7 linked regions of the Homo sapiens genome follow. The protein of the gene in region 1 purifies or fractionates together with the protein of each later gene. This does not show direct contact. Each region holds a gene or a part of one and is shown in the gene's direction. Other genes may lie near its edges. The genes, in order: KSR2, SLBP, MYDGF, URI1, MEX3D, PRKAA1 and FAM162A.

Evidence for each region.
Region 2: the proteins of KSR2 (region 1) and SLBP purify together in Homo sapiens (co-immunoprecipitation; one large-scale study listed by IntAct). This does not show direct contact.
Region 3: the proteins of KSR2 (region 1) and MYDGF purify together in Homo sapiens (co-immunoprecipitation; one large-scale study listed by IntAct). This does not show direct contact.
Region 4: the proteins of KSR2 (region 1) and URI1 purify together in Homo sapiens (affinity purification with mass spectrometry; 2 studies listed by BioGRID and IntAct, with this or other methods). This does not show direct contact.
Region 5: the proteins of KSR2 (region 1) and MEX3D purify together in Homo sapiens (co-immunoprecipitation; one large-scale study listed by IntAct). This does not show direct contact.
Region 6: the proteins of KSR2 (region 1) and PRKAA1 purify together in Homo sapiens (affinity purification with western blotting; 2 studies listed by BioGRID and IntAct, with this or other methods). This does not show direct contact.
Region 7: the proteins of KSR2 (region 1) and FAM162A purify together in Homo sapiens (co-immunoprecipitation; one large-scale study listed by IntAct). This does not show direct contact.

Annotation. Positions count from the first base shown.
Region 1 is NC_000012.12:117,759,040-117,763,448, reverse strand, and holds part of KSR2 (kinase suppressor of Ras 2), read left to right. Parts: intron 1-1,924; coding exon 1,925-2,438; intron 2,439-4,409. UniProt on the Homo sapiens protein: Location-regulated scaffold connecting MEK to RAF. Has very low protein kinase activity and can phosphorylate MAP2K1 at several Ser and Thr residues with very low efficiency (in vitro).
Region 2 is NC_000004.12:1,701,687-1,706,095, reverse strand, and holds part of SLBP (histone RNA hairpin-binding protein), read left to right. Parts: intron 1-2,395; coding exon 2,396-2,500; intron 2,501-4,409. UniProt on the Homo sapiens protein: RNA-binding protein involved in the histone pre-mRNA processing.
Region 3 is NC_000019.10:4,656,566-4,660,772, reverse strand, and holds the end of MYDGF (myeloid-derived growth factor precursor), read left to right. Parts: intron 1-22; coding exon 23-104; intron 105-769; coding exon 770-842; intron 843-2,688; coding exon 2,689-2,768; 3' UTR 2,769-3,228; downstream 3,229-4,207. UniProt on the Homo sapiens protein: Bone marrow-derived monocyte and paracrine-acting protein that promotes cardiac myocyte survival and adaptive angiogenesis for cardiac protection and/or repair after myocardial infarction (MI).
Region 4 is NC_000019.10:29,983,202-29,987,610, forward strand, and holds part of URI1 (unconventional prefoldin RPB5 interactor 1), read left to right. Parts: intron 1-2,021; coding exon 2,022-2,100; intron 2,101-3,080; coding exon 3,081-3,216; intron 3,217-4,409. UniProt on the Homo sapiens protein: Involved in gene transcription regulation. Acts as a transcriptional repressor in concert with the corepressor UXT to regulate androgen receptor (AR) transcription.
Region 5 is NC_000019.10:1,558,117-1,562,525, reverse strand, and holds part of MEX3D (RNA-binding protein MEX3D), read left to right. Parts: intron 1-4,409.
Region 6 is NC_000005.10:40,763,468-40,767,876, reverse strand, and holds part of PRKAA1 (5'-AMP-activated protein kinase catalytic subunit alpha-1), read left to right. Parts: intron 1-186; coding exon 187-411; intron 412-2,638; coding exon 2,639-3,125; intron 3,126-3,236; coding exon 3,237-3,363; intron 3,364-3,409; exon of another isoform or gene 3,410-4,409. UniProt on the Homo sapiens protein: Catalytic subunit of AMP-activated protein kinase (AMPK), an energy sensor protein kinase that plays a key role in regulating cellular energy metabolism.
Region 7 is NC_000003.12:122,386,608-122,391,016, forward strand, and holds part of FAM162A (protein FAM162A), read left to right. Parts: intron 1-4,409. UniProt on the Homo sapiens protein: Proposed to be involved in regulation of apoptosis; the exact mechanism may differ between cell types/tissues.

The DNA of each region.
Region 1 (4,409 bases):
AAGGCTTTACGTGGTTGCATGAGAATCTGTGTCTTTAGACCAAATTTGTATTTGCACTGTCAATATGGCAAATGAATGAAAAATGTTAATACACCATTAGATTTTTAGATTTTTTTTTTTTAATAGCAAAGACTTGGAACCAACCCAAATGTCCAACAATGATAGACTGGATTAAGAAAATGTGGCACATATACACCATGGAATACTATGCAGCCATAAAAAATGATGAGTTCATGTCCTTTGTAGGGACATGGATGAAATTGGAAATCATCATTCTCAGTAAACTATCGCAAGGACAAAAAACCAAACACCGCATGTTCTCACTCATAGGTGGGAATTGAACAATGAGAACACATGGACACAGGAAGGGGAACATCACACTCTGGGGACTGTTGTGGGGTCGGGGGAGAGGGGAGGGATAGCATTAGGAGATATACCTAATGTTAAATGACGAGTTAATGAGTGCAGCACACCAACATGGCACATGTATGCATATGTAACTAACCTGCACATTGTGCACATGTACCCTAAAACTTAAAGTATAATAATAATAAAATAAAAAAAAGGTTTTTTTTTTTTTGAGACTGAGTTTCACTCTTGTTGCCCAGGCTGGAGTGCAATGGTGCGATCTCAGCTCACTGCAACCTCTGCCTCCTGGGTTCAAGCGATTCTTATTGCCTCAGCCTTCTGAGTAGCTGGGATTACAGGCACACGCCACCACACCTAGCTAATTTTTTTGTATTTTTAGTAGAGATGGAGTTTCACCATGTTGGCCAGGCTGGTCTCAAACTCGTGACCTCAAGTAATCTGCCCATCTCGGCCTCCCAATTGCTGGAACTACAGGTGTGAGCCTCCGTGCCCAGCTGCCCATATTCTTTTTATCACGTCATTCTGTTTATTTCCCTCCCAGCACCAATAACCATGTGAAATCCTTCTGTGAGCATGTTTTCTTGTCTATCATGGCTGCTTTGGCAGAATGTAAGTCCAGGGGACCAGGGTCTCATCTGTGTTGCTTTTGTGTCTTTTCCAAGCAAAGGGCATAGTTGGCACTCACAGGATGTTTACTGGACAAATGCATGAATAAGAACATGGCGACACAGATCTGGAGGAAGTATGCGGTGGCTGAGGAAGTGGTCAGGGAGGGACTAAGGATGAACTTGACTTCCTTGGAATTTGTGTATCTCACATGAGGGTTAGGTATTAAAATTTCCATGTAAGGGAAAAGTTATCCTTTAAAGTCCTTTAAATCACTTTGAAACTACCAGAACTGGGACCTTGGGAAGTTCAAAAAGTGAGAATTAACTTCTTTGCTTTTCTGAGCATTTGGGCTGTGGGGTCTTCCCAGCTATGGGGCAGTGGAAGGCAAGGCTGTTGAATGGAGAATAGGGTAACAGGGTCAACAAGGGGATTTTATTGTCTTTTTGGAGGAGCCAAGTAGAGATGGTTGGCTTTATGTAAATGTACTTATGATGTAATGTGGGTATGATGTAACATGCATTTGATAGAATGTCTGTAAGAGGTAATGGGCATATGAAATAGCATGCATATGATGTAATGCACATATAATGTGACATGCATATGGTGTAATGTGCATATGATATGTGCATATAACATGCATACAACATAACAGATATATAGTGTAACATGCATATGATATGATGTGCATATGATATAACATGCATACGATGTAACAGGTATATAGTGTAACATGCATATGATGTAATGGGCACATGGTATAATGTGCATAAGATATAATTTGCATATGAGATAACATGCATACGATGTAACAGGTATATAGTGTAACATGCACATGATGTAATGGGCACGTGGTGTAATGTGTGTATGATGTAATGGTGTGTATGGTGTAACTCACCTGGCTTTCTCATGGCTTACCCATTGTCTCTGCTCTTCTGTTCCAACTCAGGAGGCAACCTTTCCAAACAAGACTGGACCATCCAGTGGCCCACGACAGAGACGGGGAAGGAGAACAATCCCGTGTGCCCCCCGGAGCCCACCCCGTGGATCCGCACCCATCTCTCCCAGAGCCCCAGGGTCCCGTCCAAGTGCGTCCAGCACTATTGTCACACCAGCCCCACTCCCGGGGCCCCTGTGTACACCCACGTGGACAGGCTTACCGTGGACGCCTACCCGGGCTTGTGCCCGCCCCCGCCACTGGAGTCGGGCCACCGTTCCCTGCCCCCATCGCCCCGGCAGCGGCACGCGGTCCGCACCCCGCCGCGCACCCCCAACATCGTCACCACCGTGACCCCGCCGGGCACGCCGCCCATGAGGAAGAAGAACAAGCTGAAGCCCCCGGGGACCCCACCGCCCTCCTCCCGAAAACTGATACACTTGATCCCGGGATTCACCGCGCTGCATCGGAGCAAATCCCACGAGTTCCAGCTGGGGCACCGCGTGGACGAGGCCCACACGCCCAAGTGAGTGCGATCGGTGGGTGCCCTGGGGCGGTCGAAACCCGGCCTGCGAGGGGCTGCCCCTTGGTCCCAGGAACTGCCCAGGTCAAGGAAACCGGGAACAGACTTGCGTTCCAGACTCTGGTTGAATGAAAAATGGCTTTTCACAGAGGGTTCTGAGCAAATGAATAGAACAGAATTTCCCAGAATTGGCCGTTTAAAAAATACGATTAATATCCTATGGCCTAGGGGCTAAATCTGATACCCGGCCTGATTTTGTAAATAAAAGGTATTGGAACACGCCCATGATCATTCCTTTATGTGTTGCCTATGGCTGCTTTTGTGTGACAATGGCAGAGTGAGAATAGCCCACAAAGCTGAAAGTATTTACCATCTGGCTTTTTACTGAAAACGTTTGCCAACCCCTGCAGAGTCTAGCCTAGTGCCGCTCCTAGAAATAGGATATGAGGCATATATTAACCTTCAACTTTCTAGTAGTCACATTAAAAAGAATGAAAAGGAACAAGTGATATTAATGATCATAATACATCATTCAACCCAATATATCAAAATTATAATATCTTAACAAAGAATCAATGTAAAATATCATTACAGAGATATTTTGCATTTTTTAAAATACAAAGTCTTTGAAATTGAATGTGTATTTTATATCCACGGCTCATCTCAGTTGAAGGTGGTAGGAAGCAGGACACGTTGGGGAAATTGACAGAGGACCCCTTTGGGGGAGAGAGCAGGTGTGTGATGTAGGGTGAGACTCGAGGATTAGGCAGGTTGCTGTGCTATTCACAGTAGCCAAAAAGTAGAAACAACCTGTGTCCATCAGTAGACAAATGAGTAAACACAGTGTGGTCTATCTATACAATGCAATATTATTCAGGCTTAAAAAGGAAGAAACTTCTTTTTTTTTGAGACGGAGTCTAGCTCTGTTGCCCAGGCTGGAGCAGTGGTGGGATGTCAGCTCACTGCAACCTCTGCCTCCCAGGTTCAAGTGATTCTCCTGCCTCAGCCTCCCAAGTAGCTGGGACTACAGGCCTGTGCCACCACGCCTGGCTAATTTTTTGTAGTTTTTGTAGAGATAGGGTTTCACCATGTTGACCAGACTGGTCTTGAACTTCTGACCTCAAATGATCTGCCCGCCTTGGCCTCCCAAAGTGCTGGGATTACAGGCATGAGCCATCATGCCCGACCTGGGAGGAACTTCTGATATATGCTACAACATGAGTGAACCTTGAAGACAGCATGCTAAGAGTAAAATATGCCAGACACATAATGACAAATACTGTATAATTCCACCAATATGAGATACCTAGAGTAGACAATTTATAGAGGCAGAAAGTAGAACGGTGGATGCCAGGGCTGAGGGGAGGGAGAATGGGGAGTTGTTATTTATTGGATATAGACTTTGCATTTGGGATGATGAAAACATTCTGGAGATGGATGGTGGTGATGGTTGTACAACAATGCAAATGTAATTAGTACCATTGAACTGTACACTTCAAAATGGTTAAGATGGTAAATTTTATATTATGTATATTTTATCACCATTTTAAAAAGGCAGGATTCTGTAAGTGAAGGGTTGGCACACTTTTTCTGTACAGGGGCAGATAGTAAATACTTTAGGCTTTGCAGACCATTCAGTCTCTGTTGCAGTTACTCAACTCTATCATGTAGCACAAAACCAGCACAGACAATAGGTAAACAAATGGGCATGGCAGTGTTCCAATAAAACTTTATTTATAAAAACAGGTACCTGGCCCAATTTGGCCCATGAACTGTGATTTACCAAGCCCTGTCTGAAGCCGTAGTGTAGAGAGTGATCTCTTTTCTGAAGCATTGGGAATGCCCTACAGTGATTGACGTGGAACATGTGATTTTACAACAGTCATATTTAAGCTGCTATGTGAAACCTAGCTTGAAGACGTAGAATGCATGTTTGAGACCTCTGAGGGTGAAGCAGAGGATAGATGCTTTTCT
Region 2 (4,409 bases), on another chromosome or scaffold:
CCAGGCTGGTCTCAAACTCCTTACCTTGGGTCATCCACCCGCCTCGGCGTCCCCAAAGTGCTGGGATTACAAGTATGAGCCACTGTCCTCTGCCACCATATATATTTTTTTGAGATATGGTCTTGCCCTGTTGCCCAGACTGGAGTGCAGTGCCAGGATCATGGCTCACACAGCCTTGACCTCCTGGGCTAGAGTGATCCTCCTGCCTGGGCCTCCTGTGTAGCTGGGACTACAGGCACGCCCCACCATGCTTGGGTATTTATTTATTTTGGAGATGACGTTCCAACCTTTTTATTAAAATCAACTTCTCACAATGTATAAATACTGCATATTAGCACACATGAAAAAGACAACTTCTAAGGCACCCAGAAATACATTCATACACGTTACAGGACCATTTGCAGAGTGGACAATTTGCTGTAGACAGTCAGCATTGGATAAATCAGAAGATTATCATCCCTCAGTACTGTACCCAGTCTCAGTAAATATTTACAACATGGTGAGAAGGTGTCAGCTGTACCTGCTTTATAATTCTATGAAGTACTCAGACTTACAGATAATTCAGAACTAAAGACAGTCCCATGATAATCTGACAAAATAAAACAAGTAGTCTAAAGTCTTAGTGATTTTGGTGTGTGCTACATCCATGATCAAATCCAAACACTCCTGGGGTGGGCTGGATAAGTTTTTGGTAGCCTGCTTCATTATCAGAAGTTTGTTAATAAGCCTTGCCAATAGAATACCATTTCTTCAGCATCAGTCATTTCTCAACTGGTTAATGGATCAGTAATCTCATCATGAATGAGAATGGAGAGAGAACAGAAGACAATTCTTCTCACACTTAACAGGAATTAGGATGGGTCAGTGCAGTCTGGGTACGGTGGCTCACAGCTATAATCCCAGTACTTTGGGAGGCCGAGGCAGGTGGATCACCTGAGGTCAGGAGTTCGAGACCAGCCTGGCCAACATGGAGAAACTCAGCCTGTATTAAAAATACAAAATTAGCTGGACGTGGTGGCTCATGCCTGTAATTTCAGCTACTCGGGAGGCTGAGGCAGGAGAATCGCTTGAACCTGGGAGGCAGAGGTTGCAGTGAGCTGAGATCATGCCATTGCACTGCAGTCTTGGCAACAAGAGTGAGACTCCGTCTCAAAAAGAAAAAAAAAAAAGAATGGGTCAGTGCAGAACAGGAGGAGGCAGACATTTGGCAAGTACAGGATCATACTGTTTAGTATAGACATGTCTGGAAAATTCTTACCCTGGAGGTTCATATTCAGATGGAGGAGTCTACACTGGCCAGATAACCTGGAGGAATGCCAGACCTGCACTTTTATTATATGGATACAGGCTTGGGACTACACAGCGGAAACACCCACCTGAGATAGCCTCAATTAGAGACTTACCTTGCAGAGCCTTCTCAGTATGACAGCGAATCCCTCTGTATGGCCAGCCAGGGGAAGCACGAGGTTGCTGGAAGTGAGTAGTTGCTCTGCACCGTCAAGCATGCACACATCTGTCTAGATGTGCCCGCGATCTGTGAAACTCGGGCTTTGTTAGAATAATGGAATTCTTTGGTGGTCGGTTTTATGAAAGGCAATATTGTCACAATCCTGTCAACATTGACATTGGTAATGACTTCAAGCTGGGACTAATGGCATAGAGACAAATTAAATACAAGATGGGAAACTCTACACTCTCTGAACTTCTTAGAGTCAACTTCATAAGCTCCAGCATCAGGCCGGATGTTGGATCAATGAGATAAGGTTAACCCATAGAAATGCCAGAACTGAAGCTGAAAACTAGATATGGGTTTTTCTGACTGCCACACACACTGCAAAAATTTGAAGCAAATCTCCCATCTTAATGACTTTATAAACACATACCAGAGATGAACGAAATAAGTTGATTTCAGCCATATGATAGCCCTGGACTACTGAAGTGTGGACACCCAAAAGGAATCATAATTTAGTTTGAAGTCTAAAATCTAGTTGGTTTTATTAGACCCCCAAACACAGTGGGCACACTGCCAAGGAGCTCCATGACTTCTGCTCTAGTAAGACAGCCCTGGATAGACAGATGCAGCTGATAGGTTATGTTCTACATCTAGTTTGCTTTTGTCCTGCTAAACTCCAGTTTAGTATGGTTTGATACACATAGTTCACTGATATAATGCTTTTATTTTTTTGGGTGGGGGACAGAGATGAGGTCTCACTATCTTGCCCATGCTGGTCTTGAACTCCTGGGTTCAAGTGATCCTCCTACCTCAGTTTCCAAAGTGCTGGTATTACAGGCACAAGCCACTGTGTCCCACCAGCCTTTGAATATTTCTTGACATACAGTTTGAAAGAAAACAAAGTATGTGTCATGGTTCAGTAGCATTTTCCTTTTATTGCAGCTTTACCACTCCTGAAGGCCCTAAACCCCGTTCCAGATGCTCTGACTGGGCAAGTGCAGTTGAAGAAGATGAAATGAGGACCAGAGTTAACAAAGAAATGGCAAGGTACACATTTTGGACCACCTTGAAGTGTTAATCTGTGGCGTTTTCAGTAACACATTAAATTTGATATTTGTCTTAGAACAGTGGTTTTCAAAGGTCTGGGCTCCAGACCAAAGGCATCAACATTTCCTGGGAACTTGTTAGAAATACAGATTCTCAGACCCTTCCCTGGGCCTGCGAATGGGGTGGGGCCTGGCCATCCTGTGAAAAGCCCTCCAGGCGGGTCCACTCTTTCAAGCTTGAAGACCACTGTCCTCTTGGTGGTAATCCTTCCAAGAGTGGAAGTAGGTGCACAATGGTGTTACTGCTGGATTGCAGGCTGGAGGACTATCAGAACTAACTTTCTTTTTTTTTTTTTTTTTTTGAGACAGTCTCGCTCTGTTGCCCGGGCTGGAGTACAGTGACAAGATCTCGGCTCACTGCAACCTCTGCCTCCCGGGTTCAAGCGATTCTCTTGCCTCAGCCTCCTGAGTAGCTGAGATTACAGGCACAGGCCACCACGCCTGGCTAATTTTTGTATTTTTTGTAGAGATGGGGTTTCACTATGTTTGTCAGGCTGGTCTTGAACTCCTGATCCGCCCACCTCGGCCTCCCAAAGTGCTGGGATTACAGGCATGAGTCACTGTGCCCGGCCTAACTATCAGGAACTTACTATAGTCATTTGTTACCACCGACCTTCTGTGTGCGGTGCTCACACAACCCAGCACAGTAGATGGAGTGCTCTCTCCAGATGAAGGAATACATTGACACTTGGCTTAGGCAACAAACAGCTCAGAAATGCCAACATACAAGGAAAGGTCTCAAACTTGGATTCTGTGAACCTCTTGCAGTTGCACACAAGATTGTTGTGTGTATCCAAGTTCTTGCAAACTAAGCTACTTCGTCTTCGTTGACTCATTACCTAATGCATCCTTAACCATGTTTAATCTCCCTTGATTATCAGTGTGTTGATCCTTTCTCTTTTGATGAGTTGTCTAACTCAAACCCAGTTGCAAGGACTGGGTTTATTCAAACCCAGTTAAAATGTGGCTCATAATTGGTTGAAGTATTTTACAAGATAATTTTAGCCAACAAGTGGCTGATAAACAGGGTCTCAAGAAAAATGTGTCTTGCGTGTCAGCCGCGGAACGATACCTAGACTACCTGTTTTCATTTTGGCAGCCAGTGATGGTATTTATATCAGCCTCCTTTGAAAAGGGACGGGAATATGTGGGAATTGGTTATTGAACATTTGGGGGAGTTATTTGTCATTTCTTCTGGTATCAAAATGTGTGGGTGGATGTATGCCTTGGTAGAAGAAATGAACTAGGAGTTCACAGATGAGAGTACCAGTGTTTTTAGTGAATTATTGCATTTATATAGGTCTTGACTTCCTCAATTATAAAATTAGAATGTTTGACTTGACTTGTATAGTTTGTGTTGCATGCACAAGTCTTAGAACAGTTCTTGCATACCGATAGCCTAGTTGCTCCCTCAAGTCACCCCTTGCCAGGGGTTATCTGCAGCTCTTATTCATGCGTATTCCACCTGTCCAGATTGTCCTGTGAGTGGACCCTATTTGTTCTTCAGATATCTCATGGGTCTGTGCCTGAAAATTGTCCTGTTTTGGAAAACAGCACTGTTTGGGCTGCTCTGTTGATTATACCCTTTGTGATGGAAAGCTACGGCTTTTATTTACTTACTTATTTTTTTGAGATGGAGTCTTGCTCTGTTTCCCAGGCTGGAGTGTAATGATGCAATCTCAGCTCACTGCAACTTCCGCTTCCTAGGTTCAAGCGATTCTCCTGCCTCAGCCTCTCGAGTAGCTGGGATTATAGCTGTGTGCCACCACGTCCGGCTAATTTTTGTATTTTTAGTAGAGGCTAGGTTTCACCATATTGGCCAGGCTGGTCTTGAACTCCTGACCTCAGGT
Region 3 (4,207 bases), on another chromosome or scaffold:
CTCGCCCCCTCTTCCTCTGCAGGCCCCAGGGGAAGTCCTATCTGTACTTCACACAGTTCAAGGCAGAGGTGCGGGGCGCTGAGATTGAGTACGCCATGGCCTACGTGAGTATCTTGGAGTGGGGCAGGCTCCGGGTGTGGCTTCTGTGCACTGGGGCAGCTGTGAGATGTCCTGCCACAAGAGGGCTCCATGGGGACAGGGAGGAGAGGGGACAGCGAATCCTGCAGAGGTAGGGTGTGTAACTTGCAGGAACCTGGCACACAGACGCCCCCAGGCCAGGGGCACGGGGGTTTGGTAACCTGTTGCTGCTGGCTTCTCTTGTATATGCCAGAAAAGACTTCTCCAGGCCAGGCGCGGCGGTTCACGCCAGTAATCCCAGCAATTTGGGAGGCTGAGGCAGGAGGATTGCTGGAGGCCAGGAATTTGATTCCAGCCTAGGCAACATAGCAAGACCCTATATCTACCAAAAGTAAAAAAAAAATAGCCAGGCGTGTTGGCATGCACCCATAGTCCCACCTACTCAGGAGGCCGCAGCAGGAGGATCACTTGAGTCCAGGACTTTGAAGCTGCAGTGAGCTATGATTGCACTGCTGCATTCCAGCCTGGACAGTAGAGTGAGGTCCTGGCTCAAAAACAAAAAAGTCTCCTCTCCATCTCTAGTAAAAGTAGAAAGCTTTAGTCTGTGCTTCTCTGGAAAGCAAACTCAATCGTTTTCCTAATGATGAGCATTGAACTGGCCCTGGTAAAGTTTCCACTCATTCTTTTTCAGTCTAAAGCCGCATTTGAAAGGGAAAGTGATGTCCCTCTGAAAACTGAGGAATTTGAAGTGACCAAAACAGCAGGTACGGAAAGATGGGGATGGGGTAGAGGTGACGCCACCCCCATCCAAGGGTGGGCAATCGGGGCAGTTTGGAGAGGGGGGTCAGCCATAGGGGTCCTGGAGACTGTAGACCAGGCATCCACAAACTGATTCTATAAAGGCCACCTCGTCAATATCTTCAGCTTTGTGGCACTGTGGGTTCTGTCTAGAGCTGTGCCATTGTGGCACAAAGCTGCTGCAGACAGTATGTCCATGCGTGGGTGTGGCTGTGTGCCACTAGAACTTTATCTTAGCTGGGCGCGGTGGCTCATGCCTGTTACCGCAGCTGCTCAGGAGGCTAAGGTGGGAGGATCATTGGAGCCCAGGAGGTCAAGACCAGCCTGGGCAACATAGCGAGACCCTGTCTCTACAAAATTTTTTTAAAAATCAGGCTGGGTGCGGTGGCTCACGCCTGTAATCCCAGCACTTTGGGAGGACGAGGCGGGCGGAACACTTGAGGTCAGGAGTTCCAGACCAGCTGGCCAACATAATGAAACCCCATCTCTACTAAAAATGCAAAAAATTAGCCAGGCGTGGTGGTGCGCACCTGTAATCCCAGCTATTCAGGAGAATTGCTGGAACCTGGGAGGTGGAGGTTGCAGTGAGCTGAGATCATGCCACTGCACTCTAGCCTGGAAGACAGCAAGATTCTGTCTCAAAAAGAAAAAAAATTAGCCGGGCATGGTGGTGTGTACCTGTAGTCTCAGCTACTTAGGAGGCTGAGGTGGGAGGATTATTTGAGCCCAGGAGGTCGAGGCTGCATTGAGCTATGATCGCACCACTGCACTCCAGCCTGGGCATCAGAGTAAGACTCTGTCTCAAAAACAATAAACAGGGCTGGGCATGGTGGCTCACACCTGTAATCCCAGCACTTTGGGAGGCCAGGAGTTCCAGACCAGCCTAGCCAACATGGTGAAACCCCTTCTCTACTAAAAATACCAAAATTAGCCAAGGATGGTGGCACATGCTTGTAATCCCAGCTACTCAGGAGGCAGAGACAGGAGAATCTCTTGAACTTAGGAGCAGGAGGTTGCAGTGAGTCGAGACTGCACCACTGCACTCCAGCCTAGGCAACAGAGGAAGACTCTCATCTCAAAAAAAATAATAAATTTTAAAAAATAAATAAATGAAATAAAACAAAGTAGAAACCATCAGGGCTTTGAGGTTGGGACTGTGGCATGCCGAGGGGAGGCTGCAGGGGTCACTGGGAAACATCAGGGTCCTTCTTCGGTTGCCTGAGCAGCACCGGTGTCCTCAAGCCACATTCAGCTGCATGGCGCCAATGCTAAGCAGAAAGAGGAATCGGAGGCGCCGAGCTGGGGCAAGGGTGGGAGCCAAGGGAGTGGACACAGCAGGTAGGGCCGGGAGACTTGGGTGAAGCAGTGGAAGCCAGAGTTCTGACCCTGCTGGAGAAGTGTCATGAGGGCCTCAGACAGGTTCACCCACTGAGCAGGAGGTCTTGCAGCCTGACCCACCCTGCATCCTGTTCAGGCCGGGATCATCTCCTTCCTGGGCTTCTTCTGGCCCCTTTCTGCATCTCTTCTTGACAACATGGCACAAATGACCAGGGTTCTTCCCACCTCAGGTCTTTCTGTGGCTTCCTGCTGCCTGCCATCTATGTTAGCCCCACCGACCTTACCCTCCACATCACTGTTTTCCTGTCTGTCACCCGTAAGACTTTCAGTGCCTGGGGCCTTTTCACATGGGAGTCTGCTTTGGAGACTGCTCCCCTTGCCTGCTTAGCCCCCACCATGGGCCCCACCCCAAATCCTCCGGACTTCTGAGAATTTTCAATGTTGAGGGCCCAACCATGTGTTTCTTTCTTGCAGTGGCTCACAGGCCCGGGGCATTCAAAGCTGAGCTGTCCAAGCTGGTGATTGTGGCCAAGGCATCGCGCACTGAGCTGTGACCAGCAGCCCTGTTGCGGGTGGCACCTTCTCATCTCCGGTGAAGCTGAAGGGGCCTGTGTCCCTGAAAGGGCCAGCACATCACTGGTTTTCTAGGAGGGACTCTTAAGTTTTCTACCTGGGCTGACGTTGCCTTGTCCGGAGGGGCTTGCAGGGTGGCTGAAGCCCTGGGGCAGAGAACAGAGGGTCCAGGGCCCTCCTGGCTCCCAACAGCTTCTCAGTTCCCACTTCCTGCTGAGCTCTTCTGGACTCAGGATCGCAGATCCGGGGCACAAAGAGGGTGGGGAACATGGGGGCTATGCTGGGGAAAGCAGCCATGCTCCCCCCGACCTCCAGCCGAGCATCCTTCATGAGCCTGCAGAACTGCTTTCCTATGTTTACCCAGGGGACCTCCTTTCAGATGAACTGGGAAGAGATGAAATGTTTTTTCATATTTAAATAAATAAGAACATTAAAAAGCAACCCCACAGCCTGGGCCCTCCCGGCTGGCCGTTGCGGGTCAGGAGCTCAGACGCGGCTGACACTGCCCCACCGTGGGCGGGTGGGCGGTGTCTCTGGGTGGGACTTCTCTGCAGGCATCAAAGCGCTAGATCCCAAGGTGGCTGTATGTGAACTTGCCCCCTTCCCCCCTTGGCACTCGCTGTCCCTGGGTCCCCCACATGTTGTGAATTCACACCCGGGTTTCTGTGGCTGCCACAGGCCCCAGCGCGGGAGGATGTTCCAAGGCCGACCTGCTCTCTGCAGCCTGGGGCATTGGTTTCCCTTAGTTTGTTTTTCTTTTGAGACAGGGTCTTCTCCTGTCACCCAGGCTGAAGTGTAGTGGTGTAACACGGCTCACTGCAACCTCCACCTCCTGGGCTCAAGCGATCTTGCCACCTCAGCCTTCCAAGTAGCTGGGACTACAGGCACACGCCACCATGCCCGGCTAATTTTTGCATCTTCTTTTGATAGAGACAGCGTTTTGCCATGTTGCTCAGGCTGGTTTCGAACTGAGCTCAAGCAATCCACCTGTCTCGGCCTCCCAAAGTGCTGGGATTACAGGCATGAGCCACTGTGGCCAGCCTCCCGTAGTTTTTTGAAGCTGGGTTGCAACAGTGACTAAAAAACAAAAACAGACCAGACAGGATGGTTTACGCCCGTGAATCCCCGCACTTCGGGAGGCCAAGGTGGGAGAATCTCTTGACACCAGGAGTTCAAGACCAGCTTAGGCAACATAGCAAGACCCCCATCTCTACCAAAAAATAAATAATTTTAAAATTAGCCAGGTGTGGTGGGGCACACCTGTAATCCCAGCCACTCAGGAGCCTGAGGCAGGAGAATCGCCTGAACCCAGGAGTCCAAGGCAGCAGTGAGCCAAGATCGCGCCACTGCAGTCCAGCCTGGGCCACAGAGTGACACCTTGTCTCAAAAGAAAAAGAACCAGCCAGCCTTGACTTCCCAG
Region 4 (4,409 bases), on another chromosome or scaffold:
AGGAATGCAGGTCAGAAGACCTAGCTAGGTTAAACTCATTGCTTACCTCATCTTGATAGAGGAGATCTGGCTTCTTGCTATGTGGTTTTTCCATCTTCCTTCTACTTTGTCTTCTGTAAGAGAAAAATACTGATAAGTGACATTTATTATAGGTTATGTAAAATAATATATATGTGAAATTCCTTAAGATCTTAAGACTGAGCTAATTTTTTTTTATTAATTATGCTACTGTTGCTTCAGGGAACTAAGCAGTAAGCTGAAACCAATTCTGTGATGTTTGTCATTTATATTATCTGGAGAGTTGTTACCTACATTGCAGTTTATCCTGATTTCAATTTGACAATGTCTACATGTTCTTTTAAATTACTTGCTGAGTTGGTGAATTTTTGTTTCTGTTATTTTTAAAAACTGACAACATCCTTCTGCTTAAAAAAAATTCAGTGCTGTAGTTTTGCTTGCAGCCTGTATCTTAGCAGGGAACCCTTTGGAAACCCAGTCTCCAGAGAAAGTTTGACGGGCATCTTGGCATAGGCTGCTGCCTGGTATTACTCAAAAAGAAGGGCTGTTCATTTCCAGCAGGTGTTAAGAGCTGAGTAAGGCCCATAGCATGGAAATACGATCATCTCTGCCCCTACAGAGTTACATATACCTTTTGGTTGTTTGAAATTACTTATTTGGTAGCTCTGTTTGATGTAACAAGAAACAGACTCCTAGGCCAAATTGAAACGCCTTTTGTATTATCTCTACTTAATTTCTTCTACCCCCAGTTGATTCTCTCTTACCTTAATCACATTATTATGAATAATTGAAGAGCTGATGATGCATTTTTCAGCCTAAGGTTTTCTGATGAGGACTAAAGCATCTGATCAAATTTCATGTTCATGATTTCAACTTCACAGCCAGTATCTATTCACTCAAAAGCTTTATTAAATCTCTTCTTTCGGCCGGGTGTGGTGGCTCATGCCTGTAATCCCAGCACTTTGGGAGGCTGCGGTGGGGGGATCGCTTGAAGCCAGGAGTTCGAGACCAGCCTGGCCAACGTGGCGAAGAAACCTAATCTCTATGGAAGATACAAAAATTAGCTGGGCGTGGTGTCATGCGTCTGTAGTCTCAGCTACTCAGGAGGCTAAGGCAGGGGAATCACTTGAACCCAGGAGGTGGAGGTTGCAGTGAGCTGAGATTGTGCCACTGCACTCCAGCCTGGGCAACAGAGAGAGACTCTGTCTTAAAATAAATAAATCTCTTCTTTTTTCATCTTGAGTCCCTTCTTCTCTCCAAATATCAGGCCCTCTTTTACTGTCTCCCTTAATTTTCACATTTTATTTGGTCCAGATAGTCTTGTATCTTAAAAAACAGTAATTCTCAAAATTTGAGTATTCTGCTTCTAAATGCCAGAGTCCCTGAAGAGTCTTAATTCTTCAATAAATGTATGGTAGAATAATGCCATTGCTAAACTGTATAAAAACAGGATTTTAAAACTAAAAATAAAACCACATTAATCTTGAATTTGCTAAAATTATGTTTTTGATTAGCTTGTTTTATGATACCTGGCCTACTGGGCCTCCCAAATTGCTGGGATTACAGGCGTGAGCCACCACACACGACTGAAAGAAGAGATTTAATAAAGCTTTTGAGTGAGGCCAGGTGCAGTGGCTCACGCCTGTAACTCTAGCACTTCAGGAGGCTGAAGTGGGAGGATCATGAGGTCAGGAGTTCAAGACCAGCCTGACCAACATGGTGAAACCTCCTCTCTACTGAAAATACAAAAACTAGCCTTGCATGGTGGCGCACACTTGTAATCCCAGCTACTCAGGAGGCTGAGGCAGGAGAATTGCTTGAACCCGGGAGGTGGAGGGTGCAGTGAGCCGAGATCACGCCACTGCACTTTAGCCTGGGCGACGGAGCGACACTCTGTCTCAAAAAAAAAAAAAAAAAAAAAAAAAAAAAAAAAAAAAAAAAAAAAAAAAAAAAAAAAAGAAAAATCGTTAATAATGTGTGTATTTGGTGTTTTCTGTCAACAGGAAGAAGGTAGATAATGACTATAATGCCCTTCGAGAAAGACTCAGCACCTTGCCTGATAAATTGTCTTATAATATAATGGTATGTTTGGTGTGTTTCTTTTAAAGTAATAGTTGTTTCTTGTAAACATATTAACTATGTGTCGGTTCACAGAATGTCAGGCTGATGGACTGTGTCCAAGGTAACTATGTAGCAAGGAAGATTTGTTTTGTTTTACTTTATAAGAACACAGTAATTGTAGTAATTGTTGGTATTTACCTTTTTTTTTCAGAATATATATGGTGACACAAATGACATAAATATTAGCACAAAATTGGACATATTTCAAATGGAAACTTACTATATAAAAAATGTAATTATGACAGAAATATGGTACTAAGTCGTTTCTTGTTAGCCAGAGCAGGAATAGGCCATAATGTTTTGTAATTCACAGAATTAAACCTTAGGACATTGATTTTTATATAAAAACGTGCTGCTAATTTTTGTTTTAATGATCTTCACATCGACATAGTGATCTGTTCATGAGCCCTGGATTAGAGCCTTTCATTGCATGAATGTTCTTTCTTATGAAGACTTTGTTCTTTTATACTAGTCCAAGTATTTTGTATATATAGCTAGATAGATCCATTAAAGCTATTTGTTTACTAATTCCTGCTTTGCAAAAGTGTCTACTTTATTGAAAATAATTTTTAGTTTTCTTTATCAAAAGTATTTTGCATTGACAATGTTTCACTACTAGTTGCTTTCACTTAGATTTGCAAGTGAATGAAAAGTATAAACATGCCGAGACAGTACTACTTTCTTTAAGAGCTATATGTAAATATGGTGTGGATTTATTTTCCTGTTTTAACATTGATTTATGAACATAAAGCAATTTTCTTTAGATTTTCCTAGTAAAATTTTAATATAGTGTTGAATTTCTGTGAAGCTGGCATTTTATTTTTCCCAATGTATAAATAAAAAAATTCAGTTATGTAAGGCTTTTAATGCGAAGTGTTTTATAAAATGTACTTTTCAGTGTTTTATGTTTTTTCCCTTTTTTCTTTTTTTTTAAACAATAGGTACCATTTGGCCCTTTTGCCTTCATGCCAGGAAAACTTGTCCATACTAATGAAGTCACTGTTTTACTGGGGGACAACTGGTTTGCAAAGTGCTCAGCAAAGCAGGCTGTAGGTTTAGTTGAGCACCGGAAAGAACGTAGGTACCCATTTTAAATGATGTTTCTTTGTTGTATATGTATCCATTCACAGATTGCCAAGCTGAAGGGCTGTTTCTTACCAAAAGTACCTTCCGTGATCTATGAATCCAGGCTGTTTGTGATTCTGTTGAATTGTAGGTAGTTTGAGTAGAACCAACATTTGAGAATGAGCTGGAGAATGGAGCATCCGGGTTGGAAATGTCACCTACATTGGCATGTTTTCAGAAGTTACAAAGTTTCAAAGTCATTATGTGATTTTGTAGTTAGAAGTTGGGAAGACATAAAAATTGGAGTCATTTTATACCTTATAATTTTTTTTTAGTTGCTATTATAGACTTATTTTTGCACTTAATACTTTAGTACACAGAAATAATGTGTTTTCTCCTTAGTGAACTAAGAGAAATACCTGTTTACATAAGTAGACAATTCTTAAAAATGCTTTTTGGTTTGGAAAAAAAACCATATTTTCATTTGATAGAGGAGACCAGGTGTGAAAAGGTGCTACCTAAAACAGCACCCTTATCCTTTTTCAGTTGTTTGAGTTCTCTGCATCCCTTTATTAGGGCAGCTCTTGAGTTTTGTTTATCCGTGCTATTATCTGTAGGTGTATAGAAGCCTACATACACACACACAACACACACTACACATTTTGCAGTTGGATGAGCTAGCTTGGGTTCTAGCTTAGTTATATTTTAAAATTAGGTTCAGTTTATAATCTGTTGTTATTTCTGTAATACGTATTTAGATTGAGAGTATAATATCCGCCCTACCTGCTTTTTAACCTTTTAGTTAAATGTGTATTTGAAAATAAATGATGGGAAGATCCTTTTTTATAAATAAGGTCATACTAAACAGAAAACAGCTGAGTTTTCTAAAGCTGAACTTGATTTCACTTATACATGAATGAGTACTAGAGAACTCATTTACTCAGTGAAATTCTGGGAACTATATTTGGAGACTCTAATTGCAAATCAACTCCTATAAGTTTATAATTGATATATATTTTGATCTTTTGTGACACTAATCAGAATCTTATTGTTAGGCCTGTATGTAATTTCTGGCAATGATAAATCTTTTGGCTTTGCTGCATTATTTTTGTCATGTATATTAGCGAAAGAGAATGGGCATACTTTTTTCTTAAAGACCTTACTGAAGACGAAGCCTCTCTTTATATACTGAAGTAGCTCTGATG
Region 5 (4,409 bases), on another chromosome or scaffold:
TGAGGCGGAGTCTCACTCTGTCGCCCAGGCTGGAGTGCAGTGGTGCAATCTCGGCTCACTGCAAGCTCTGCCTCCCGGGTTCAAGCGATTCTCCTGCCTCAGCCTCCCGAGTAACTGGGATTACAGGCGCCCGCCACCACGCCCGGCTAATTTTTGTATTTTTAGTGGAGATGGGGTTTCACCATGTTGGTCAGTCTGGTCTCGAACTCCTGACCTCGTGATCCACTGTGCCCGGTCCACACCTGGCTAATTTTTTTTTTTTTTTGAGACGGAGTCTCACTCTGTCGCCCAGGCTAGAGTGCAGTGGCGCGATCTCAGCTCACTGCAACCTCCATCTCCCAGGTTCACGCCATTCTTCTGCCTCAGCCTCCCAAGTAGCTGGGACTACAGGCGCCCACCACCACACCCGGCTAATTTTTTGTATTTTTAGTAGAGACGGGGTTTCACCGTGTTAGCTAGGATGGTCTTGATCTCCTGACCTCGTGATCCACCCATTTTGGCCTCCCAAAGTGCTGGGATTACAGGTGTGAGCCACCGTGCCCGGCCACACCTGGCTAATTTTTAAAAATTTTTTGTAGAGGCCGGATATGGTGGCTCACACCTGTAATCCTAGCACTTTGGGAGGCTGAGATGGGAGGATCACCTGAGCCCAAGAGTTCCAGACCAGCCTGGGCAACATAATAAGACCCTGTCTCTGCAGAAAAGCTTTAAACAATTAGCCGGGGGTGGTGGTGCATAACTGTAGTCCCAGCTACTCGGGAGGCTGAGGTGAGAGGATGGCTTGAGCCCAGGAGGTCAAGGCTGCAGTGAGCTGTGACTGCACTCCAGCCTGGGCGACAGGTGACACCCTTTATAGAGACAGGATCTTGCTATGTTGCCCAGGCTGGTCTCGAACTCCTGGCCTCAAGTGATCCTCCTGCCTTGGCCTCCCAAAGTGCCGGAACTACGTACGGGTGTGAGCCACTGTTCCTGGCCTGGGAGGGGGTTTTGACATCCCTGTTTGACAGCTGAACCAGCTTCCCTCCTCCCCACCAGACCCCTCAGCTCCCGCTGGCTTCCATAGTGGCCCAGGTCTGGGATGCTGCTGTCCCGCGTCACCCGGCTGCCTGGCTGGGGGCGGCTGCGTGTTGGACTGAGTGTTGGCTGTGAGGCCTTGTTCTCGCCCCGTCCTGCTTCTAGAATCCTGTCCTTGCTGTTGCCTCAGCGGCTCCCTGGGGTTCACATTCCCCTTCCTGCCATGGCAAACCCATCCAGCCTGGGCTGGTGGCCTCGGCTCCCACACCAGGACTTGTGGTTTCATTGGTAAGTCGTAGTGCACGGTCATTGCAGCCAGGACCCTGGACGGGCTGGATGAGTGATGCCCGCTGGTGTGTGTGCTGCGTGGGGCCCTGGTAGGGGGAGACTTGGCTGCTGTGGGTTGGGGGTGTGGGACAGGTCAGGGCCAGACTCTGGGGTGGTCACCCCGATTCCCAGGCATCTCAAGCCCTCCGAGTTGGAATTCTGGGGACATGGCCCACGAATCTGCATTTCAGTGCCTGCCAACCTTCGGTGTCCCCCAGAGCCCGCCCTTCAGGCTTCCTGTCCCTCTAGCCTCGCTGTGTCATTTCCAGTGGGGCAGGGGTGGGCTGGGATCACTCCTGGAGCCCCGATTCCTTGGCCCCTTGGCGTCTTGATGTGGGTGGAGTTTTGGGGGCCAGCACGTGTCAAAGCAGACGCAGCACCAATGAATTGAGCTCCAGCTCCGTCTTTGAGGTCCTAGAGGCCTTCTAGCTGTGAGGTCTCCACCCAGCGCCACCGTCTGGGTTAGGGCAGGATGGAGTAAGGGGAGGGGGAGGCGCCAGTTCCCTCCCCTGCCCCGACGCACGCGTGGCTCCCAGCACCATCCTGGTTTCTGCTCAGACAGTCACACGCCCCCTTCCTTGCCACCTCCATCTCCCAAATTTGTCATCTCACCCAGACCAGACTTTCTGTGACCACAGCCTGTGAGCTCAGCGGTGGCCACGTCGGGGCAGCCTCTCCCACGTGTGACCCTCTGGGGACCCGGGGCGGCTCCCAGATCAGCAAGGGAGGACCCCATGCTGCACCCTGGCAACGCTGGCGGGCTCTGCCCTCTGCCGGGTCGGCGTGATGGGGAACAGGCTCACTTCCTGCCTGTGGGCAGGGCCAGCGGAGCCTCCATCTGTGGGTGGCACCTCCTTCCCCAGCCTTGCTGGGTCTCCACTCCCTGTGCCTCAGTTTCCCTTCCTCAAGGAGGATCTATCTAAAGCAAACACTGTGGGCTGCAGTGAGACCTGCCAGGGTGGCTGCCAGGAGCCAACGGCCTGGTCATGGCCCTCTGAGGGCCTGTGAAGCCGGGCCTGTGAAGCCAGGCCTGTTACCTTCCCCTTTCACAGTGAAGAAACAGGCATAGCAAGGTCCCCCAAGTGCCGAGGGAATCCCCAGCCCCATCCTCCAGCCTCAGGGAGGCAGCTCAGAGAGTCAGGCATGTTAGGAGAGACTCAGAAGAGCAGGCCCAACCCGATGCAGTCAGGGTGGGCTTCCTGGAGGAGGGGGACACCGGACTGTACAGAAGAATGGAGGGGACTGGGTGCAATGGAGGTGAACAGAATGCTGCGACTGGGAGGGACAGGTGTGGTGGCAGTGCAGCTGGGGCGGGAAAACTGCTGTCCTCCTCCGAGTGGGTGCACCCCCGCCACCCCTCCCAGGGTCCTCCCTACCGAGCCCCTGGGACCACCAGCCTCCAGGTCCCACGCCTTCCATCTTCCTGGCCCAGGCAGTTTCTGACTTCTTCCCCGTCAAAAGTGCTGATCCTGCTCATTTCATCTCTTGCACTGTGGGAGAGTTAGCAACACTGTTTTCCCCTCAGAGCCACCTTCTGACTGTATTGAAACATCCCTGCAGCTCCCTCTGCTTCCCCAGAGCCTGAGGGGTTGTGAGCAGTGGCTCAAAACTCCTTCACGGGCCGGGCGCAGTGGCCCACACCTGTCATCCCAGCACTTTGGGAGGCCGAGGCAGGAGGACTGCTTGAGCCCAAGAATTTGAAACCAGCCTGGGCAATATAGTGAGATCCCATCTCTACTAAAAATAAAAATAGGCCGGGCGTGGTGGCTCACGCCTGTAATCCCAGCACTTTGGGAGGCCAAGGCAGGTGGATCACCTGAGGTCAGGAGTTCAAGACCAGCCTGGCCAACATGGTGCAATCCCATCTGTACTAAAAATAAAAAAAATTAGCTGGGTGTGGTGGTGGGCGCCTGTAATCCCAGCTACTCAGGAAGCTGAGGCAGGAGAATTGTTTGAACCTAGGAGGCAGAGGTTGCAGTGAGCCGAGATGGTACCACTGCACTCCAGCCTGGGCAACAAGAGCAAAACTCCGTCTCAATAACTAATTAAGCTGGGCATGGTGGTGCCAGCTCTGGAGGCTGAGGTGGGAGGATCACTTGAGCCCAGGAGTTGAAGGCTGCAGTGAGCTATGATCACACCACTGCACTCCAGCCTGGGTAACAAGAGTGAGATAATCTCAAAAAAGGAAAAGAAAAAAAAAAAAACCATTAAGGCCCCAGGGGTGGGGTAGGGATGTCTGGGACCCCAAGAAGGCCATACCTGGTCAGCGGTTGCCTACACAATCGGTGAGGAGAGCCCTGCCTCCCACACTGACACTCATGTCCCTCACCAGGTCAGACCCCCAGCCCAGCCAACAAGAACAAAGCCACAGCAGGCCCCTCAGGGCCCACCTGGATGCCTCGGAGGCATCTGGAGTCAGGGTGCGGGCGTCTGCAGTCGGGCCGAGACCTCGGCTCCCCTTAGGCCAGGGTCTTGGTAGCCTAGGGAGGGTCATTTGGCCGGAAGAAAATTGTAGGCAGTTTCCACAATCTGAATTTCGGCTTCCCCTCCTGTTGGGCCGGGAGGTGGTGTCAGAGGGTCTCCAGTTGCTCTCTGGGCTGACACAATGGGGGCTTGAAACCATGGAAACGTCTCCTCTCTCATTTCTGTAAGATAAAAGTTCCAAGTCAAGGTGTGGGCAGGGCGGGGGGCGCCTTCAGTTTCCGGGGGCTATGGCCAGTCCTTGGCTTGTAGAGACATCACTGCAGTCTCTGTCTGTGTCTCCACAAGGCCAGCTTCTCTGTGTGTGTGTGTCTTTTTTTTTTTTTTCCTTCTTTTTTTGAGACAAGGCTTTGCTCTGTCACCCAGGCTGAAGTGCAGTGGTGTGATCATAGCTCACTGCAGCCTCCACCTCCCGGGCTCAGGTGATCCTCCCACTTCAGCCTCCTGAGTAGCTAAGACTACAGGTGTGTACCACCACACCTGGCTAATTTTTTGTTGTTGTTTGTAGTAGAGATGGGGTCCTGCTGTGTTGCCCAGGCTGGTCTCAAACTCCTGGGCTCCAGTGATCCTCCTGCCTCAGATTCCCG
Region 6 (4,409 bases), on another chromosome or scaffold:
ACAAACTTCTTGACTTTTGTTTTCAAAGATAATACTGATGGAATTAACGTTGTAACATGTAGTAGTGGCTATAAAAACCATATTCTGCTTAAGAATTCTTTATGAAATATCCATATTTGAAGTTTTTGATGAACTGAATCTTAGGTTAAAATGATTCTTTAATCCAATTGTTATTTCCTGTTACAGATTGTATGCAGGCCCAGAGGTAGATATATGGAGCAGTGGGGTTATTCTCTATGCTTTATTATGTGGAACCCTTCCATTTGATGATGACCATGTGCCAACTCTTTTTAAGAAGATATGTGATGGGATCTTCTATACCCCTCAATATTTAAATCCTTCTGTGATTAGCCTTTTGAAACATATGCTGCAGGTGGATCCCATGAAGAGGGCCACAATCAAAGATATCAGGTAATAAAGCAGTTTGGAAGTTATCAGATCTGATAGTATCCATGATAAAAGTTATGTGAAAAAAAAAAAGTTGCAGAACAGAATATACAGTGTAATCCTGTTTTTATGTGAAAAAAATAGAGTGTATAGACACATTTATTTTATTTTGTTATTAGAAATACATAGTAAACTGGTTACCTTAGGGAAGTAAGATTCGTAAGAGGGAGGGCTTTCACTTTTTACTTACACATCTTTGTTTTGAAATTTTTACAGTGAACATCATATTACTTTTTAAATTAACAAAAAAGCTAATGAAAGATTGGTGCTGTGGCTCACACCTGTAATTCCAGCACTTTGGGAAGCTGAGGAAAGAGGATCATGTGAGCTCAGGAGTTTGAGACCAGCCTGGGTAACATAGCGAGGCCCCATATATATGTATATCTTTTATTTTTATTTATTTATTTTTTTTGAGACAAGGTTTTGCTCTGTCACCCAGCCTGGAGTGCAGTGGTGTGATCATAGCTCACTGTAGCCAGTAACTCCTGGGTCAAGTGATCCTCCCACTTTAGCCTCCCTAGTAGTTGAGACTACAGGCATCCACCATCATGCCTGGCTGTTTTTTGTTGTTATTGTTTTGCTTTTTGTTTTTGTTTGTAGTGACAGGTCTTGCTATTTTTGCCCAGGCTGGTCTTGAACTCCTGGCCTCAAGTGATCCTTGTGCCTTTCCCTCCCAGTGTTGGGATTACAGGTGTGAGCCAGTATGCCTGGCGTTAGGATTAATACTTTTCAGTAGTAAATTTGTGGGTGGCTATTTTATTTCTTATCTCATGAATTATTGTATTTTTTTTCTTTTTTTAATCCCAAGGAATGAGATTTAATTGACATGTTTTTCCTGGTAGTATACATTGAATTACATGCAAAATTCCTGTTTTGTAGGTAAAAGTCAGTATAACCAGTTTCATCTGGTTCAACCTAATAGTTTAAATTAGACAAAAATGACGATGACAAATTTTCTTCTCAAATTAGAGTGAGCCATTTCTGATGAAGACTTAAACAATTTTATTGCAAGCCTTGTTTCTTTTTTTTCCCCCCTGTGGAAATTTTGGTCCTTTTGGTCTTCTAATGGCTAGACTGCACATTTATCTGAGAAGGAAGAAAGAAATCAGATATGGATCTAGGAATAGTAAATATGAAAGCATTAGTATAATGAAGAAGAAGGAAAGATTATATGTGGAACTTGAAGCTTGATTACTTTCCACTTACTACACGTTTTAGACTAGCTAAAAAAGAGACCATGAATGGCACGGCATGATTTTATCACCAAAGGGAAAGGACAAATCATTCTCTAAAATTTATATTTTAAGATATCTAGGTAAGAAATGTTTTTGTTTGTATTTTACCTATTTTCTTCCAATTAAAATATAATACATGACAATTGAAAAAACTTAGAAAAACACCAACAATAGAGAAGAGAATAAAAAATTATCTTTAATCCCATGACCCAGAAGATAACCATTGTTCTTTTCTTGTTTTTTTTTTCGTCTCTGGATTTTATTTAGTTTTAGCAAAGTGACATAGTTCAGGTCAAACATATTCTTAAATATACGAAGTTAGGGAATTAGAATAGGAAATCATTCAGGGCATGGCCTTTCCAGTCACACAGAACTGGGTCATAATCCTGGTTCTGTCACTTACTGTCTTTGTGACCTTGAGCATGTTCCTTGATTTTTTTTTTAACCTCAATTCCTTCATTTAAAACAAAGAGATATTATCTTCATATAATTGTTTCGATGATGAGGGGAGATAGTGTATATGAAGTGTTTAGCATAAAACTTAGCATATAGTAAGTACTCAGTAGTTGTCTACTATTTTTCTTGTTGTTACATTATCTTCACTTAACATTATATCAAAAGAGTATTATAATGAAGCTACCTAATATGTTCTCTTTCTAAGCTGGAAATAAGCTGTTCTTTTCATTGTTTGTCGCTGTCATTTGTCCCATAACTTTTTTCCCCCCATTGCTGTGTCAATACATTCTCCCTCTTAAAACTGGAGGGAAATTGGAGCATTTCCCTCAACATACACAATGAAGTGCGAGCTAGAAGAGGAAAATTTCAGTGCAAAAAGTGACAATAATACAGTATGAATATAAATATAAATTAAGTCATATTCTAAATTCCCTAAACTGTTACTTTCAGTCTCAGCTCTATTCAAAGTCCTTCTCCTGATCCTGCCATTTTTCTCTCAGGGAACATGAATGGTTTAAACAGGACCTTCCAAAATATCTCTTTCCTGAGGATCCATCATATAGTTCAACCATGATTGATGATGAAGCCTTAAAAGAAGTATGTGAAAAGTTTGAGTGCTCAGAAGAGGAAGTTCTCAGCTGTCTTTACAACAGAAATCACCAGGATCCTTTGGCAGTTGCCTACCATCTCATAATAGATAACAGGAGAATAATGAATGAAGCCAAAGATTTCTATTTGGCGACAAGCCCACCTGATTCTTTTCTTGATGATCATCACCTGACTCGGCCCCATCCTGAAAGAGTACCATTCTTGGTTGCTGAAACACCAAGGGCACGCCATACCCTTGATGAATTAAATCCACAGAAATCCAAACACCAAGGTGTAAGGAAAGCAAAATGGCATTTAGGAATTAGAAGTCAAAGTCGACCAAATGATATTATGGCAGAAGTATGTAGAGCAATCAAACAATTGGATTATGAATGGAAGGTAAGAAAGAAATAACATTTTGATTATTAGCATATTTGGCAAACCCATAGTCTATAAAATGTTTTATAGAAGAATTACTTTTGACTTGGTTTTTGTTATACCATGTGCTAGGTTGTAAACCCATATTATTTGCGTGTACGAAGGAAGAATCCTGTGACAAGCACTTACTCCAAAATGAGTCTACAGTTATACCAAGTGGATAGTAGAACTTATCTACTGGATTTCCGTAGTATTGATGGTATGTACATCACACAAAACAACATAGATTAGACCTTGTTACTAACTTGGTATTTTACGCCTTGATTCTTTTGAGGCTTCTTGACTTGTTCCTAGTAATTCAACTGCAAAGGAATAAAAAATGTGATTTCTTGTGCCTTTGCAATATTAACATTTATGAATCTTATTTTTCTTGTAATCTTATAGCATATTGTCCTTTTAAGATTATCATCTTGTAAAATCCTTAAAGCCAGGTGTAGTCTGATCCTAAGGTGATAGTTTTCTGCTGCATTTGTTTTTTTGGTGTAGTTCATTTTGATAAGAGACAATGTTTTATTTAGAAATAAATATTGACTCTTCTGTAAGCTTTTATTTATTATTAAATAAGTTTTCAGTTAAGAATGAAGTTATGGCAATTCTTCATTGGCCAATTCAATTGCATTAAGCTACGCTGTTGAGTGCAGGTGTGGTGGCTTATGCCTGTAAACAGCCCAGCACTTTGGGAGGCTGAGGTGGGAGGATGGCTTGAGCCCAGGAATTTGAGACCAGCCTTAGCAACATACTGAGACTCTGTCTTTACAAAATATTAAAATATATATATATAGTATCACCTTTGCTTATGGAAGGTTGCATAGAATTATTAGATGAGGTTCACGTTTGAATTTTTTTCTTCTTTATAAACTCAAAGATAGTACACACATAGTAGCAGAAAGACACAGGTTTGAGCCATGATATGTTGGCCAAACCAGTTTGTCTGGTTATCTTTAGGTCCATATAGTACGTATCTGCTAACATATACTAATGCAGTCTGAAATACGGAATGAGTTTTATTTTTCTTGTATTTGGATCAAATTTGCAACCTTAGATTTACTAGTACTGGGGTATACCAATTGAATGCCCATTTTGTTTTTGTACTGTGTTCCCAACCTTAGTTTTTCTTCGATTTTTATTCATTGGAATTGTTGCTCTTTTATGAAATACTAAATGAAATATGAAGGGAAAGTGGAAAGTAAAAAGCACTGAGCTGAGACTTAGGAGAGTTGGGTTCTAGACTTACCTTTCTGTTCA
Region 7 (4,409 bases), on another chromosome or scaffold:
TCCAGAATATTTGGAATAAGATTCTCTAGGTAAGTGAAATTTCAGATGATCAAAACTTAACCTTATAAATGATGGACCTTTACTTTTGTTTCTGTTGGAAATCTTTGGTATACTCCCTTAGCAAACAATATAGCAAACATAATGTAGGCTTTTATGAGCTCGAATTTGTTGTTTTGTAGATGTAGTTGTAGATACAGATCAGGGTTGTTAACTTGTGGTACTGGACACCTCCACATTTGAGAGGTCCTGTGAACTTCTCAAATTTTTATGATTGTATACCATTTTTGAGAGAGAGGGTCCATATTTTATATCTGCTACTCAGAGCAGTTCATGCTCTTTAAGTTAAAAAGCACTGATACAGATGATTAGGAACTAAATGGCCATTTACCCACACTACGCTGGGTTTCATAAGGGTAAACACTGGCTCTGTTTTGTTTTTACTCAGTCCTTACCACTTATTGGTGTTCAGTTCATAGTAGACAGGCAATACATATTTTTTGGATGAAGGATGCTAGGAAATATCTTGGAACATGCTGCAAATGTAAGGTGAGTTTTCACACCTGTTTTCTCCTGAAAGAATAAAATAGATATAACTTTTAGGATATTGTATCTTTCCACAGAATGATTATTAGTTCAAAGGAATGGAATGACCTTACAAGAATGTTTCTTATTGAAAGAAAGTTTTGCTCCCCTAAACTCTGTTGACTGGTCAGATTTGAAAATGAATTTGTTACCGTCATTGTTACCAATGTAATGGACTATGGGCTGCCTTCCTTTTAGTTTAACCCACATCTCAGAGCATTAGAGTAGAGAGGTATCTTAGAAGTCAGGTAATTTAGTCCTCTAATTTTTACAGATGAGGAAACTTAAGGGCCAAGAAGGGAATCAGCTTGCCAAGGACCACACAGGTACAGACCTGGGACATAGCCAGTATCCCCTGGCTCCCATTCTGATTTTATTTCTACCACATTCTGCTACCTTATTCTTTTTGTTTGTTCTTGCTAACCAAACCTAAATGAGAACGTACGCATTTTAACTACCCCCACATTTGGCTTTACTTATTGCTCCTTTCCAGGTCTTGCCAAGTATTTATTGAGTACACAATGGATGCCCTGTGTGTATACTGTGAAGGCTCTAAAATGAATGGACTGCCCCACTCCTAGGGCTGATTTATTGCAATGAACAAACAAACATATATAATATACCATTGGCTTCAAGAATTCTGAGATTCTTGAAGGCTCCATTGAAATGAAGGGGTGTGAGAGTGATGTGAGCACATGTAGGGGCGGTAATGAGTTGTGAGCACATGTAGGGGCGGTAATGAGTCTGAAAAAGGATATGAGAGAGGAAAGATTACCTTAGGGATTTTGATCAGGAGGCAATAGGAGGTAAAGTGTAGTGTTTGGAGACGTTTGAACCAAATGAATTTGGACCAAAAAAACCTTTTAGCAGGAGAAGTAACACAAGAAACATTTCTGGAAAATTAACTCAGCAACTACATACCAGTTGAATTGCTGCTACCTATGAAGATATTACAGTAACTGATGTGTGAGGTGATGATGGAAATAACGAATATATTTAGGAAGTGTCTTGAAGAAAGGATGAGTTTGGAGATACTGAGTAAGGAAGGACTTAAAGACAAGTTTTTTAATGTTGAGGACTACAGAAGTATTGCCTCATTGTCAGAAATAAGAAAGTTGGAAAAATAATCAGAAACGCCATCAAAGATTTGTGTTAGTTTGGCAGAGAAGATGGTGCATTATTGAGTAGGTTTAGGTGGCACTGAGTTATAGGTTGTGAGAGGTTGAAGACCTGAGGGCAAAGGAAGAGTAAAGTTATGGAGATAAAGATATGGGAGCAATTAGTCTGGAGTTGATTTTTAAAACAGAATGGAGGAGTCCTTCCAGAGAGTAGCACAGAATAGAAGCAAGGACTAAGCCTTGGAGGTGTGACATGGTGTAAATAATAGGAACTGGGAAAGAAGACATTAAAGAAGATTGGTCATAGAGGTTGGAGATGAAGTGAGAGAATTTGGTGGTACAATGTAAGGAGGCATTGAATCCTTGTAGAAAGATGAGATCAGTCGAATCAAATGGCCACAAAAATGGGAAGAGTAGAGTCAGAAGGGCTAATGATGAGAATCTAAAAAAATGTATTCATGACCGGGCACGGTGGCTCAAGCTTGTAATCCCAGCATTTTGGGAGGCCGAGGTGGGCGGATCACGAGGTCAGGAGATCGAGACCATCCTTGCTAACACGGTGAAACCCTGTCTCTACTAAAAACACAAAAAATTAGCCGGGCGTGGTGGTGGGCGCCTGTAGTCCCAGCTACTCAGGAGGCTGAGGCAGGAGAATGGCGTGAAGCCGGGAGGCAGAGCTTGCAGTGAGCTGAGATCACAGCACTGCACTCCAGCCTGGGCAACAGAGCAAGACTCCGTCTCAAAAAAAAAAAAAATGTATTCATATGACTAGAAAGAGGTCACTAATGTTGGTAGAGTAATTTTAGTAAAATGATTGGAGAAGGAAACATTGTAGCAAAATAAAGTGTGGGTGGTGAAGTGAAGTAGTAGATACATGCCATTTATTCAATCATTTGAGCTATGAAAAAGAGGAAATAAGAATTTTATTAATAGTACCTGTTGAGAACAAGTGAATGCTTTGTCCAACATAGTGGACCTTCAGTGTTATTGTAGAGTAATAAGACAGAATTCTCAGTAACTACTAGTAGAAGTTACTGGAGAAGTAGTCAGCCTTTCTGGAAAGTAGTATAGATGGATAGATAGATAGATAGATAGATAGATAGATAGATAGATAGATAGATAGATAGATGAGATAGATAGATGGAAACTTAAAGGGGTTCATACCCTTTTACCCTTCACTTCCAGGATTTTATTCTAAGGAAATAATCAGAAATACCATCAAAGATGTATGTAGAGAACTGTTCATTGAAACATTACTTATAACACTGAAAAATTGGAAAGAAATCAAGTTGTAGGGAATTACTACATTCAGATTATAGCTGTGTGTCGGGTTTTATACAGCTATTAAAAGTATTAATATCTTGGAAAGTATTTGTGACATAGCAAGATACAGTATTATCTGATTATGAAAAATGTATATGTTTTATGTAAGTATAGGAAAGGTCTGAAAAGAAATATTAATGCACCAAGTTGTTATCCCTAAGTGCTATGATTATGAGTGCTTTTATTTTTCTTCACATCTTTTTTTAACTTCCAAATTTTCTGTAATGAGCAAGTGTTACTTTTATCATTTAAAGTTTGTTTTACTAAAAGCTTTTTACATAACATGGTGTGTAACAACTTGGTGGTACAAAGGTTTTTACATAGTGAGACCCGATCTCTACAAAACAAATTTTTTTAATTAGCTAGACATGGTGGCATCTGCCTGTGGTCCCAACTACTCCAGAAGATGATACAGGAGGATCGCTTGAGCCCGGTTCAAAGTTACAGTGAGCTATGATCTCTCCACTGCCCTTTACCCTAGGTGACAAAGTGAGACCTTGTCTCTAAAAAAAAAAATAAGTTTTTTAGTTTTGATTTTAAAGATGGGGGAGATAACATTTGGCAGGAAAAAGGCAGTGGAAAATAAGGATAAGTTTGGTACGACATCCCTCAGCAGAGGGATTACTACTTAAGAATAAAGGAAGACTGGTATTTCTTCAAGCCTGCAGGGAAGGATGAGAAAACGGATATAGGGAGTCTGTTTCTGTCACAAAGCCCAGGTCAACAGCTAAGGCCTAGAGAGTTTCAGATAGACACTCTGGGGAGTGGGTTGTAATATTGATTCTCTGATTCCCAGAGAGTTGTCATATCTCCAGTCACATCACCTATGGTTTTCTCCAAGAGGACCTTGAAAGATTCTGAGAAAGAAAAAGCATCCCTACCTTTCCTCACTGTCTATCATGGGGTTGGAAAGGATATTTATGGAAAGGAGGGGACTACCAGGAGAGAAGCTGGTACTTCAACCAGCCTCACCCTGGCTGACCACTATAGCCTCCAGCTAGCAATGATATTTCTAAGGCACTGGTTTTCAGATTATGGGTCCCCCATAGCAGAAGTTTCACCATTACCTGGGCAATTGTTAGAAGTGCACATTCTCAGGTTCTGTCCATACTGACTGTATCAGTTGGGTCCAGTAATCTGTTTCACAGGGTCCCCCAGGTGATTTCGATAGATAAAAAAGTTAAGAACCTTTACTCTTAAGATTAGCCGTTTGCCACCCAGAGCCTTAGAGACAGCTGTGAGGCTTCATCTTAACTTCCTGCTAGGGCCCTGGAGACACAGAATTGGTCAGCCAGGGACAAGCTGTTAAGTCCAGCTAGAGGGTTAAAGGGCTGTTTTTCTTTTGGTTTGTATGTTTTTAATCGTGATCCACCAGAGGATGGAAAA